3 linked regions of the Homo sapiens genome follow. The protein of the gene in region 3 purifies or fractionates together with the protein of the main gene of each other region. This does not show direct contact. Each region holds a gene or a part of one and is shown on either strand. Other genes may lie near its edges. The genes, in order: PCDHGB1, INAVA and PKP4.

The links.
Region 1: the proteins of PKP4 (region 3) and PCDHGB1 purify together in Homo sapiens (co-immunoprecipitation; one large-scale study listed by IntAct). This does not show direct contact.
Region 2: the proteins of PKP4 (region 3) and INAVA purify together in Homo sapiens (co-immunoprecipitation; one large-scale study listed by IntAct). This does not show direct contact.

Annotation. Positions count from the first base shown.
Region 1 is NC_000005.10:141,353,045-141,356,694, reverse strand, and holds part of PCDHGB1 (protocadherin gamma-B1 isoform 1 precursor), read right to left. Parts: intron 1,675-3,650; exon of another isoform or gene 1,588-1,674; coding exon of another isoform or gene 1-1,587. Other genes in the region: PCDHGA4 (protocadherin gamma-A4 isoform 1 precursor), read right to left, coding at 1-1,587. UniProt on the Homo sapiens protein: Potential calcium-dependent cell-adhesion protein. May be involved in the establishment and maintenance of specific neuronal connections in the brain.
Region 2 is NC_000001.11:200,897,882-200,901,531, forward strand, and holds part of INAVA (innate immunity activator protein), read left to right. Parts: intron 1-425; coding exon of another isoform or gene 426-519; coding exon 520-574; intron 575-1,591; coding exon 1,592-1,716; intron 1,717-2,222; coding exon 2,223-2,339; intron 2,340-3,055; coding exon 3,056-3,278; intron 3,279-3,650. UniProt on the Homo sapiens protein: Expressed in peripheral macrophages and intestinal myeloid-derived cells, is required for optimal PRR (pattern recognition receptor)-induced signaling, cytokine secretion, and bacterial clearance.
Region 3 is NC_000002.12:158,662,818-158,666,467, reverse strand, and holds part of PKP4 (plakophilin-4), read right to left. Parts: intron 3,572-3,650; coding exon 3,380-3,571; intron 3,197-3,379; coding exon 3,023-3,196; intron 621-3,022; exon of another isoform or gene 387-620; intron 56-386; coding exon 1-55. UniProt on the Homo sapiens protein: Plays a role as a regulator of Rho activity during cytokinesis. May play a role in junctional plaques.

The sequences.
Region 1 (3,650 bases), on a different chromosome or scaffold from region 3:
ACCCTGGAAGGTGTCTTCGGCCAGGGAGTAAGTGATTCGGGCATTGTCACCACTGTCAGGGTCTTGAGCAGTCATAGATAAGATGGAGGCTCCTCTGGGGTTGTTTTCAGGAATGTAAGCAGAGTAGGAAGCATGAGGGAAAGTGGGTGGGTTGTCATTGATGTCCATCACTTGCAGTGAAATATGAGTTTCTGTAGACAGTGGAGGAGTTCCCTGGTCAGTGGCAGTTACAGTGATGTTATATTCTGAGACTTCTTCCCTGTCCAGTGTTCTGTGTGTCAACAACCGATAATAATTTCCATAGGTCTTTTCAAGTGTGAATGGCAGATTATCTGGAATAGAACATGTGACTAGGCCATTTCCTCCTGAGTCACTGTCATGCACGTTGAAAAGTGCAATTACTGTACCCGGGGAAGAAGATTCCTGGACTGAGCTGGTGAGAGATGTAACTGTGACTTCTGGTGCGTTGTCATTTTCATCCAGAACTGTCACCAGTACCTTGCTTCTAGCTCGGAGACCAGGCCCATCATGGGCTTCTACATCTATGTCATAGAATCCAGAGTCCTCATAATCTAGACCCCCCAATATTGTTATATCCCCACTCAGAGAATTCAACTGAAATAGCTGTGATATTTTGTCTCTTACTTTCCGGAAAGAATACGTCACGTCTCCATTGGCTCCTTCATCTGGATCAGTGGCTTTTACGGTGAGTAGCCGAGTGCCTACAGGAACGTTCTCACGAACACTTACGTGGTACTCGGGCTGAGTGAACACGGGAGCATTATCGTTGGTATCCACAAGTATTATGAGAATCCTGGCAGTGCCAGAGCGAACCGGGTCACCTCCATCGAAGGCCGTGAGAACGAGGTGGTGAACCGCCTCTTCCTCGCGATCTAGAGCGCGTTCCAGCACCAGCTCTGGGTACTTAATCCCATCGGCCCCACTTTGCACGTCCAGGGAAAAGTAACCGTTTGAGTTGAGCTGGTAACCCTGCAGGGAGTTTACACCTACATCCGGATCAAAAGCTTCAGGAAGAGGAAATCTTGCCCCAGGATTTTCATTTTCAGCAACTTTTATTTCCCTCTGTTCTGTCCCAAAACTGGGTGGGTTATCATTAACATCGATTATTTCCACCTCTACCCGCAAAATCTTCACTGTATCTTCTAGAAGAATCTCCAGGTTTGTCACACAGTTTGGAGATCTGTCGCAGAGCTCCTCCCTGTCTATCCTACCCGCGGTGACCAAGGTGCCGCTGCGCGGGTTCAGGGCGAAAAGCTGCGTCCTACCTCTGGAGACGATGCGGACTCCGCGCTCCGCCAGCTCCCGGGGCGCCAACCCCAGGTCCTTGGCGATGTTGCCCACCACTGAGCCTTCTTCCTGCTCCTCAAACACCGAGTAGAGAATCTGTTCGGCCCTGATTTCCACCAGAACCCCCAGGAGAAGGCAGATCTGGAGCAGCCGGGTGTGGTCTGGGCGAGCAGGAGGCGCCGCCATTACAACCCCGCCGCGGAGTCGCCTGTGCTTCGGTTTTCCCTCTGTCGAGGCCTGAGGAGCCCCAGGATCTTCTGGGTCCAAAATAAAGTGCATTCACAGCCAGAGCTCTCAGGGCTTCCGCTTGAAGCTTTCATAAAGCTCCAGAGCCAGTGCTTTGTGCTGCAGAAATCTTGTGATTCTGATTAAATTTCTGGTTTGTCTTTTCCCCCTGATTGGTGAACAGCGACACCCAGAGTCTTAACCTGTTACTGCAATTTATTCTTGGTTAAAAAAAGTTTATTTTTTATACACTTTTCTATTCCTATTTCTCCCAAGATAATAAAGTCAAATTCCTGTTTTTGATTTGCAATGAAAATTCAAGAATGATCCAAGTCTTCCTGTACAATAAACTTTATGAAGTTATTTATTTTCTTAGAGAAAATATGACGATTTTTTTCCTAAGATGTGTTCTTCCTCTTTTCAGTTTTCACATTGTTCATCCCCACAGCCCATTCTCAGTATAGCGTATTGTGTGAGGGACATAATTATCTCTCCTAAAGACAAAGGTGGACTTGAAAAATGGATGAGACAGATAAGTGAAAAGACAGTGGGACAGGAACTTGGAGGTCTGGCTTTAGTCCCAATTTATGCAGTAACAAGTTTCCTCACAGGAGTTGACCCTCTAGAACCTGGGGCAATGCTTCAATTCCCTTGCAAAAAACTCACCTACTGTTCAAGAGTTAGCCTTACCCTGTACAAATGAGATTGACAAATAGGATAATAGGTTTGGGAAGAGAATTTGCTCCTTAATTTTGTGTACAGTAGATTCTTGGCCACAAGCTATGCATATGACTATCTTGTTCACAATGTGTTCTCAATCTTTAGAACAATACCTTTCATAGAGTAGTAATTTTTATGAAACCTTTCAATGTTTCATGAATGACCAGTTCAAATGCAAAGCCTAAAACAATGGGTAAATAACTCTGATCTTAAAAATAAAAAAGAAATAAAAAGAAAAGTTAGACTGAATAACTATAAAGTGCAGATAATAGTTTAGTGATTTTTTCACATGACACATTCAGTATTATTTTACAATTTCTAACTTTACTTTAGCTCTCATTTTAGAAATAGCCAGTAAAAGGAAATGTTTTGGTAGCCGAACATGGATTATCATTGCATGTGCCATCGCTTTCTTTCTTATGAATACTTACAGTAATTTACTAATCTGTGAAAATTTGAGATAAAGCAGTACATCAGTTCTTAAGCTTATTCCTCACTTAACAATTAGCAGTAGAAATGACTCATACAAAAGGGCATTAGCTATACAGAATTTAAAAACCCTCAGACTTTGAGAGAGTAGATTAAACGTGTTTTTCACAATCCTCAAAGACCGCACAAACTGCGGATGATTGAGAGGTGAAATAAGATGTTTGGAAATAAATTTGACAGTATGCATTAAAAAAATCTCAACATGTTTATAGATTTAACTAATTCCTCAGAAATCTACACTAAAGAAACAAGAAGTATGGAAAACGCTTTATAAACCCAAATGTTCATTACATTCTTTGTTTTAATAGAGACAAAATAGAAAGAGCATAAAAACAAATAATTTAGGAATGGTTAAGAAAATTATGAAATATCATTGACTGAAATTATAGAGTGGGAATAATATTGACTCAAAGTTAGTGATGCAAATATAAAATTGGACAATATTTGCTACTTGTGATGAGACAAAGTGTTAAGAGTCTTAATAATTGGAAGGCTGTATTAAACATACATGTTGCTGCAAAAAGACAAACTAGAATGTAATTGATGAAGATTACATTAATTACATAATTACATTAATACATAATTACATCAATTACATAATTAATGTAATTGATGAACTTTAACTTGGGTGGGAAGAACTCTAAATACATTTATAAAGAGCTAAGAATAAAATGACTTGAAAATATAGTATTGCATATCAACTAAGAAAAGGCACTGCTATTACTAAGTGTTAACATCTAGGAAACAGGTCTCTTTAGCAAGATTTGCCAACCATACAGAAATGCCAACAGTAAAGATTGAAAATTAAATTGCCAAGACTACTGAGCAATCAAGAAAGCAATCTCCATCTATCTAGTACCCCCTCCCGCAGTAGATACCATCACTAGAACAATGAAAGAAAATCAAAA
Region 2 (3,650 bases), on a different chromosome or scaffold from region 3:
GAAATGCTGGGATTACAGGCGTGAGCCACCATGCTGGGCTTCCTTCCTCCTTTCTTTGTTATCCCATCCCATTTTTTGTCCCCTTCCTTTTTATCCTGTCTCTGCTCTTTTCCTTCTTGCCCTTCTCCCCAGTCGAGCGGTTCTTGTGGCTACCACAGCTGTCGACCCCCTTAGGCCTAGAGGACTTTGGCCCAGAGGGGAGTTAGGCTGGGCCCCTGAGAGCCCACTGAGAACAGGGTTTGCTGGTGAGGCCCACAGCCCCTTCTCTAGGTCAGCACCCCCAGTGCCAGAATCTCCTGCCCCAGATGGTTCCTGAAGCACAGTCCTCCCTTCCACTCCCCTGCTCTCAAGCATCTATTCAGCTTTTTGTAACCAAGATGGTTCATATCTAGCTTTTTTGTTATTGTTCTCTTTTCTCTTTAAAGCTGGGGAAGCTCCAGGCTACCTACACAACCTGGCCCAGGCTGGTCACGGTGTCCCCCCTCCCTGCTCTGTGCCCTCTCCTTCCAGAAATCCACCATGGAGAGTAAGGATGAGGTCAGCGACACCGACAGTGGCATCATCCTGCAGTCTGGTGAGTGTTCAGGGAAATCCCCCTGCCCTAGTCCCTAGTCCCTGGTCCCTGGTCCCTGGCCCTGACTCCTGAGTCCTGAGCCCTCAGGCACTAGGGCTGGCTGGGCTGAGACTCCCAAGGGCTGAGAGGAAGGGGAGGGAGAGGCCTCTGCTGGGAGGAGGGGGAGGTTCTGGAAGGGCTGGAGCCTCAGGGACATGTGGAGTTTTCCTCCCTGGAGAAAACTGGCTTGGAGTTTTGGTTCTATCTGGAAGAGGGATCTGCAATGTTCAACTTTAGCCCCAGCTGAGAAGTTGAAAAATCTCAGGCAGGCACAGTGGCTCATGCCTGTAATCCCAGCACTTTGGGAGGCCAAGGTGGGCGGATCACAAGGTCAGGAGATCGAGACCATCCTGGCTACCACATAGTCCCAGCTATGTGGGAGGCTGAGGCAGAAGAATCGTTTGAACCTGGGAGGCGGAGGTTGCAGTGAGCCGAGATCGCGGCATTGCACTCCAGCCTGGGCGACAGGGCAAGACTCCGTCTCAAAAAAAATATATCATCTGGCCAATGTGAAGGTCTTGCCTCTCTGTTTGGCCAGACCTGTGGGCCTAGTCTGGCCTAGTCTTGACAGAGGACAAGAAAGAAGAGGCTTATGTGTGTGTGCAAGAGAGAGGGGTAGTGGGGAGAGGGAGAGAGAGAGACAGGAAGAAGAAGGAGAAGGAAAAGAGGAAGAAGAAGGGAGGAGGAGTGGGGGGAGGACTGCACCGGCAGAACTCCCTCCCCTGCACTCCCCCACCATAGGTCACCTGGTGGGACGACCCTCCCTTCTGAGTTGTAACATTTGTGCAGCCAAGAGACGTGGTGTTTTGTGGCTGTGACACAGGCCACAGCAGCCAGCCTGCAATTTGTGGGCAGGCATGAGATGTGTGTGTGTGTGTGCATGTGTGTGCATGTGCATTCCCCTAGGGGTGGTCAATAAGTAACGGAGGAGGCTTCCATCTTCAGCCTCCCTGAGCATGTGCCCCCCAACCCTTGCAGGCCCCGACAGCCCGGTCTCCCCAATGAAGGAGCTGACCCATGCAGTGCACAAGCAGCAGAGGGCCCTGGAAGCGAGGCTGGAGGCCTGCCTGGAGGAGCTGAGGAGACTCTGCCTTCGGGAAGCGGTGAGGCCCCAGCCAGCACACACAAGCATCGGGTTCATCTCAGGAGCTGTGGAGCCACGTGTGGGGATGCGGGAGCTGGGGAGAGGGAGCCCCATTCTTGAGGGAATTCTGGACATCAGGCTGGGGGCTGGGGCCCAGAGTCCCCATGATGCAGTGTTTGACCTTGTGCTGGATGGAGAAGAGTCAGACCCAGGCAGGGGCCCAGGCACAGAGAACAAAGTTCATCAGGGGCTGCAGAGGGACTGCACAGACATAAGTGCATATGAGTGCTGTAACCCGGGTCGGTGTAGCTCTGGAGGAAGTGATCAGAAAGAGGTCTGAAGGGAAAGGGGAGGAGTGCAGAGTGGGTCTGAAGACAGGAGAGACAGTGTGGAGGATGGGATGAGGTGGGGTGGAGGGTGGTCCCACCAGGGCTTCTATGGAAGGCAGGCACATGCAGTGCAGGGGCCAGTGAGCCAAGTCTGGGCAGGTGGAGAGGACCTGGCTGGTCTCTGCTTCCTCCCCAGGAGCTGACGGGCACCTTGCCAGCGGAGTATCCCCTCAAACCAGGGGAAAAGGCCCCCAAGGTTCGCCGCAGGATCGGAGCGGCTTACAAACTGGATGACTGGGCCTTGCACAGAGAGGTGAGGAACCTCAGGAAGCTGCCAGTACCCCTCGATCCCCAAAGCTGATCACTGAGACGCCACACCTCAGCTCAGTACCCTGGCAGGTTCCCTTCCACCCTTTCACACCCAGTGAGGGTGCTTGGCTGCCTGTTGGTGAGAGACACCATGAATATGTAGCCCAAATGGCTGTGGAGAAGGGGCGCCACTAAGGAACCGAGAGCTGGGAGCTCAAGGGAGGACACTGGGTTTGACCCCATTGGGCAGAAGATCAGTTAAGAGCACCAGCCACCAACCCAGCGGGCAATAGCCTGCTCAGACAGGTTACTCTGGCCCCTAGGGCTGTCCTCCTTTCTCAGGAGGAGGTGGGGGCAGTCAGGCCCTGGGTGCCCTTCCCCTGTGGCGTCAATGGCAGCAGTTTCCCATGGGCCAGCCTGCCCCACCCTTTGGGGTCAGGAGGGAAAGTGTCCCACTTGGGTTCCCACCCTGCCCGGTTCAGCAGGTGGGCTGGTGGGTGGGTGCCCATGCCAGCTTTTCAGGCTGACAAGTTTGCTTTTCGGCTCCTCCCACTCCTTCACCCTCTGCTCCACGTCCGTCCATTGGTGCTGCTGTCTGCCTCTCTTCTGTCCTCAGGGCTTAGGACTGGGACCTAGAGCACTGTGTCAGGGCTGCTGTCCACCCTCTGGGCCCCCAATCTCCCTGCCTCTCTCTAGCCTCACTCCTGCCCCCTCTCTCAGGACCCCCTAAGCAGCCTGGAGCGCCAGCTGGCCCTGCAGCTGCAGATCACAGAGGCAGCCCGTCGGCTGTGCCTGGAGGAGAACCTCAGCAGGCAGGCTCGGCGGCAGCGGAAGCACTCCATGCTGCAGGAGGAGAAGAAGCTGCAGGAGCTCCAGCGCTGCCTGGTCGAGCGGCGGCGCAATAGCGAGCCACCTCCGGCTGCTGCTCTCCCCCTGGGCCGAGGTGAGCCGGCTGCCCTGAGGGGGGCCATGCTCCTTAAATGAGCTTTTGAGGGATGGTGGGCGCACAGCCCCGTGCCACTGCCTTTGCATTTGGCTCCAGCTGGGTAAAGCTGATTCTTGGGTTCAGCTCCACCCCATCCTGATTCTCTCCAACTCCAGCAAGGCTTCCCCATCCTGTGAGGTCTTCTTCTCCGTCTCCTTAGAAAACACCCTACTCTCTCCTTCCGTATCCTCCTCAAAATACACTACCTTCAAGAGACTTCCTACACAGAGATATTTCTCAGCTGACCCTGAGCTGAATCCAAGGTGTATTCAACTGGGTAGCCCAGGCTGGCCCCGCTGCCCTCCAGGCCCACAGGGTGATGGCATCTCT
Region 3 (3,650 bases):
CAAGGATGGGGAGCCCCTTTTCTTTTCGGACGGCCGCCCGGATATATGCTGCAAACTAGTGAGAAAAATAAGGCAGGAAGTAACATAAAACAGAGTTCCAGTCTCATATGTTACTGTCACCTAAAAAAGATGTTTCCAAAAGATGAACTAATAGATTAAATGGTTTCTTTCCAATTGAAGATCAAATCTGTGGTGTCAGTGAAGAGAAAACCAAAGTTGGGGAGAAAGATAGGCTGGAATGACTGATTTAAAAAGAAATCCCAAAGCCTGAAAATCTCAAACCACCATCTGCCAGATATTTTTGTGCAGAAAAGAGAAGGCAGTGATTACTTTCTATCTCAGATACATAAACATGATTAAGGAAGGATCGTGTGTTTTCTTTGCAGTTGGTCCCCTGCCAAACCCAGAGGCTATAAATAGGATGGCAGAGACAGTAACCCATCAGCACACATGAAAGGAGAACCTGTCTCCATCAAGTCATTTTTTTTCTATATTCCCTGCAACAATATTTCGAGTTCAGAAACCTGTCAAAGAGATTAGTTGGAAAAATCCCTTGCCTCAGAAGAAAGGGAAATCTCCAGAAACATCCAGCATCATAATTCATACAGCCTGGTGAAAAAGTAAGTATATTTGTGTGCAAAATGCATTCTCACTCAAGATTAGTTAGCTGCTGATGCTGTTTTTTAAAAATCCATAGTCAAGAAATTTTTCTGTGACTATGAAGCAACTCTGTACTGTGAGTCAGTTTGTATATCTTATAAAATGGAAATGAGCGCTAAGTCATCAGTGAAACAACCAAAAAGAGTAACGTTAGAAAACGGTTCTTTAATCTTGTTTCCAGCTTTGAGCTTTAATTGACTTTTTCAACCAATGCAAATCATCTTTCAAATTTTAGGGTAATTGAAAGATGCTGCTCATAAAACATATACTTTCCTGCTGTGACCAAGACAGTAGGACAGAGATCTACCAGCCCTTTGTATTATTTCGAACATTAAAATATGTGATTGACCATCCAGTTTCTTGAATACCAACAGAATATTTTAATAATACAAATAAGAGGGAAAGATGCATTTCAAAGATCCTATTTATATTCTGCATATGAAATGCATACTCCTATTTTTCAAATCACATGAAATCTATGGGGGGAAAATGAAGTACATGACTGGTTACTAGGCAAAGCACTCAGGCAGTTTTATGAACTTCTCTCTGAAACCTGCAACAACAGAACCATCTCCTTCTGTCTCACTTGGAGACCTACCAGCCCAGCCCAGCCCAGCCCGTCTCCCTTCTGGAGAACTACAGTCATCACTGCTCCTGAAATAGCTTCTTACTTGATAACATCTGTGGCCACGATTATCTCATTTTCTTAGTGAAGGTCCAATATTTTAACTCACTATTGAAATCGCTTAGATATAATGTTTATATTTTAAATGAGCTTTGCCATCTAACTCTCTCACTAAATGATCCCAGACATGAACTTCTAAATAAGTCAAATCACATCGATTTCAATTACTGTCTTTTATTATCATCAAATGATCCTCTGGTCACAGAAGCTGAAGGTGAACGCTGTTCTACAACATAAATGTTTATAAATACTTATGTGCTGGGAGTATCTCACTAAATCCTCATAACCACTTTATAAGGCAGGTATTAATATTCACTTTATTTTAGGGAGGTGGAAACTGTGGGCAGAGCCCCTAGGCTGCCAGACGGTAAGCAGAGTGGCCTGGATTCAGAGCCAGCACTTACACACTCAGTCACTGGCACTTTAACTAGGAGCCACAACAAAATAACCACACCGGCTTAGCACTAGACCATAGTTATCGCTCTATATTCAACATAGTGGCCACGTGCACGAAACAAACCATACCTAGGCTTATCAATGCTTTTCACTATCTTGAAAACACCATCACCAAAAGATTCTCATTTTGGGGGGTTAAGGTGGGGGAAGAAGCCCACAGCAAGCATTGTAGTAACTCTACTAAAATACACCTGTCAAGAAATTACTAGAGGTTGAAAATGTCTCAGACAAGGACTGTCTGGGAAGTTGCTGGGGGACATTTAGAAAGTTCTGAGAACTTGCTTACAGTGGTAACAAAAGGAAACTGTCTTCAGTTTTCATACTCATACATTTGCAAAAAGATGCAGAAACCTTAGACACAGGCATGTCTGTAACGGTCTGAGAGGAACAGAGGTCCTCTATCCCTCCCCACAGTGCTGCCCAACCTGTGTTCTGTCCTGCCACTCAAGATTTCTCACCTTTGTATTGCTGCACTGGCTCCCAAATCCAATCCCTGCTTCTAACTCTCCCTTCCTCGAATCCACCTTTTGCACTGCCATGGAAGTGGGGGAGCAGTGATGATATTAGCCCGTCTCTGTCACTCATCTGCCCAGACTCTTTCGGTAGTCCCTCCTGTGTGTAGGTTAGGATTCAGCTCCTGAAGTTTGGCCTTCAGGCCTATCCATGATGCCTGGCTCCATGGTGGGCCCCAGTGGGCAGCCAGTAGTCCTGGCCCACACGTCTTCTCTGCACCACAAGACTGTCCTCCTCCTGTTGTCCCTGTTATCTGGATGGCTCCTTCCATACCACAGCCTCAGCCTCTACAGGCTTACTTTCACTCATCTTCAGAGATTCTGCCGGGCAGCATCCCCTTCAGGAAATCTCCTCCACGTCCTTACTCCGCTCTTTTCCTGACCTTCCCTTACACTGTGTGGCTGGGTTAGATGTCTTCTTTCAGGACCCCACAGCACATACATCCTGTGGCTTCTACACTGTGCTGGCACCATCTGTTTTTCTCACTAGCCTTCTGTTTCTCATAGTGAGGGACTTGTATTTATCTTTGTATCCCCAGAGCAACTGCTTGTCTCCCTTTTTTCCCTTTAACCCCTTCACACACAAGCTAAGTAGCTGTGACCCTTTCACCATCAGGGCTGATCTGACTGAGGCAGAACATATATATATAACATTTCAAGTTAGTTTGCAAAGATGGAAAGAAGTGTAGATAAGTGGAAGTCATCCTACCTTCCAGTTGCCAGCAGAGAGGTTCTGGAGAGACCCTGCAGAGCCTTCCAAGGTGGCTGGGTTGGAACTTTCTGCTAGAAGAGTCAGATATGGTTTTACCACCGATGGGTGCCACAGCATCTCAACCCCTTTGGGGGACTTCGACAGTCCTGGGATAGGACCAACTCCATCCCACTGAAAGACAAACAGCACACGTTAAATGGAGGCAGAATGAACATGATCTCCAATACTTGAAAACATTCACCTTTGCGGGACTCAGCTATAGCTATGCAGAAAATTTATTTTCTTGCCAAATATGTGATTCCTCACTCCCAGAAAAATTAAACTTGAGAGTCTCATATAAAATAAAATGCTAACTTGATCTTCTTGCGGAGTCCTCTTTTTCTTTTTCTTCTTCTTCCCCCAGCAACTTGGCTCAGAGTCTTTGCTGGGAGACTCTTTTCCTAGTAAGTCATCCAATTCGTTCAGTCCCAGTAACCGGGCCTGGGGCACCTCCAGCTCCAGCCGATAGGACAGGTTCCTCAGGGTGCACACGCAGTTCTCCACCGTCTGAAACCCAGCATGGCGTATAATTAAAAACAACTCGGCACATTAGAGCAAAACACTTCTGTACTGAACACTACAGACA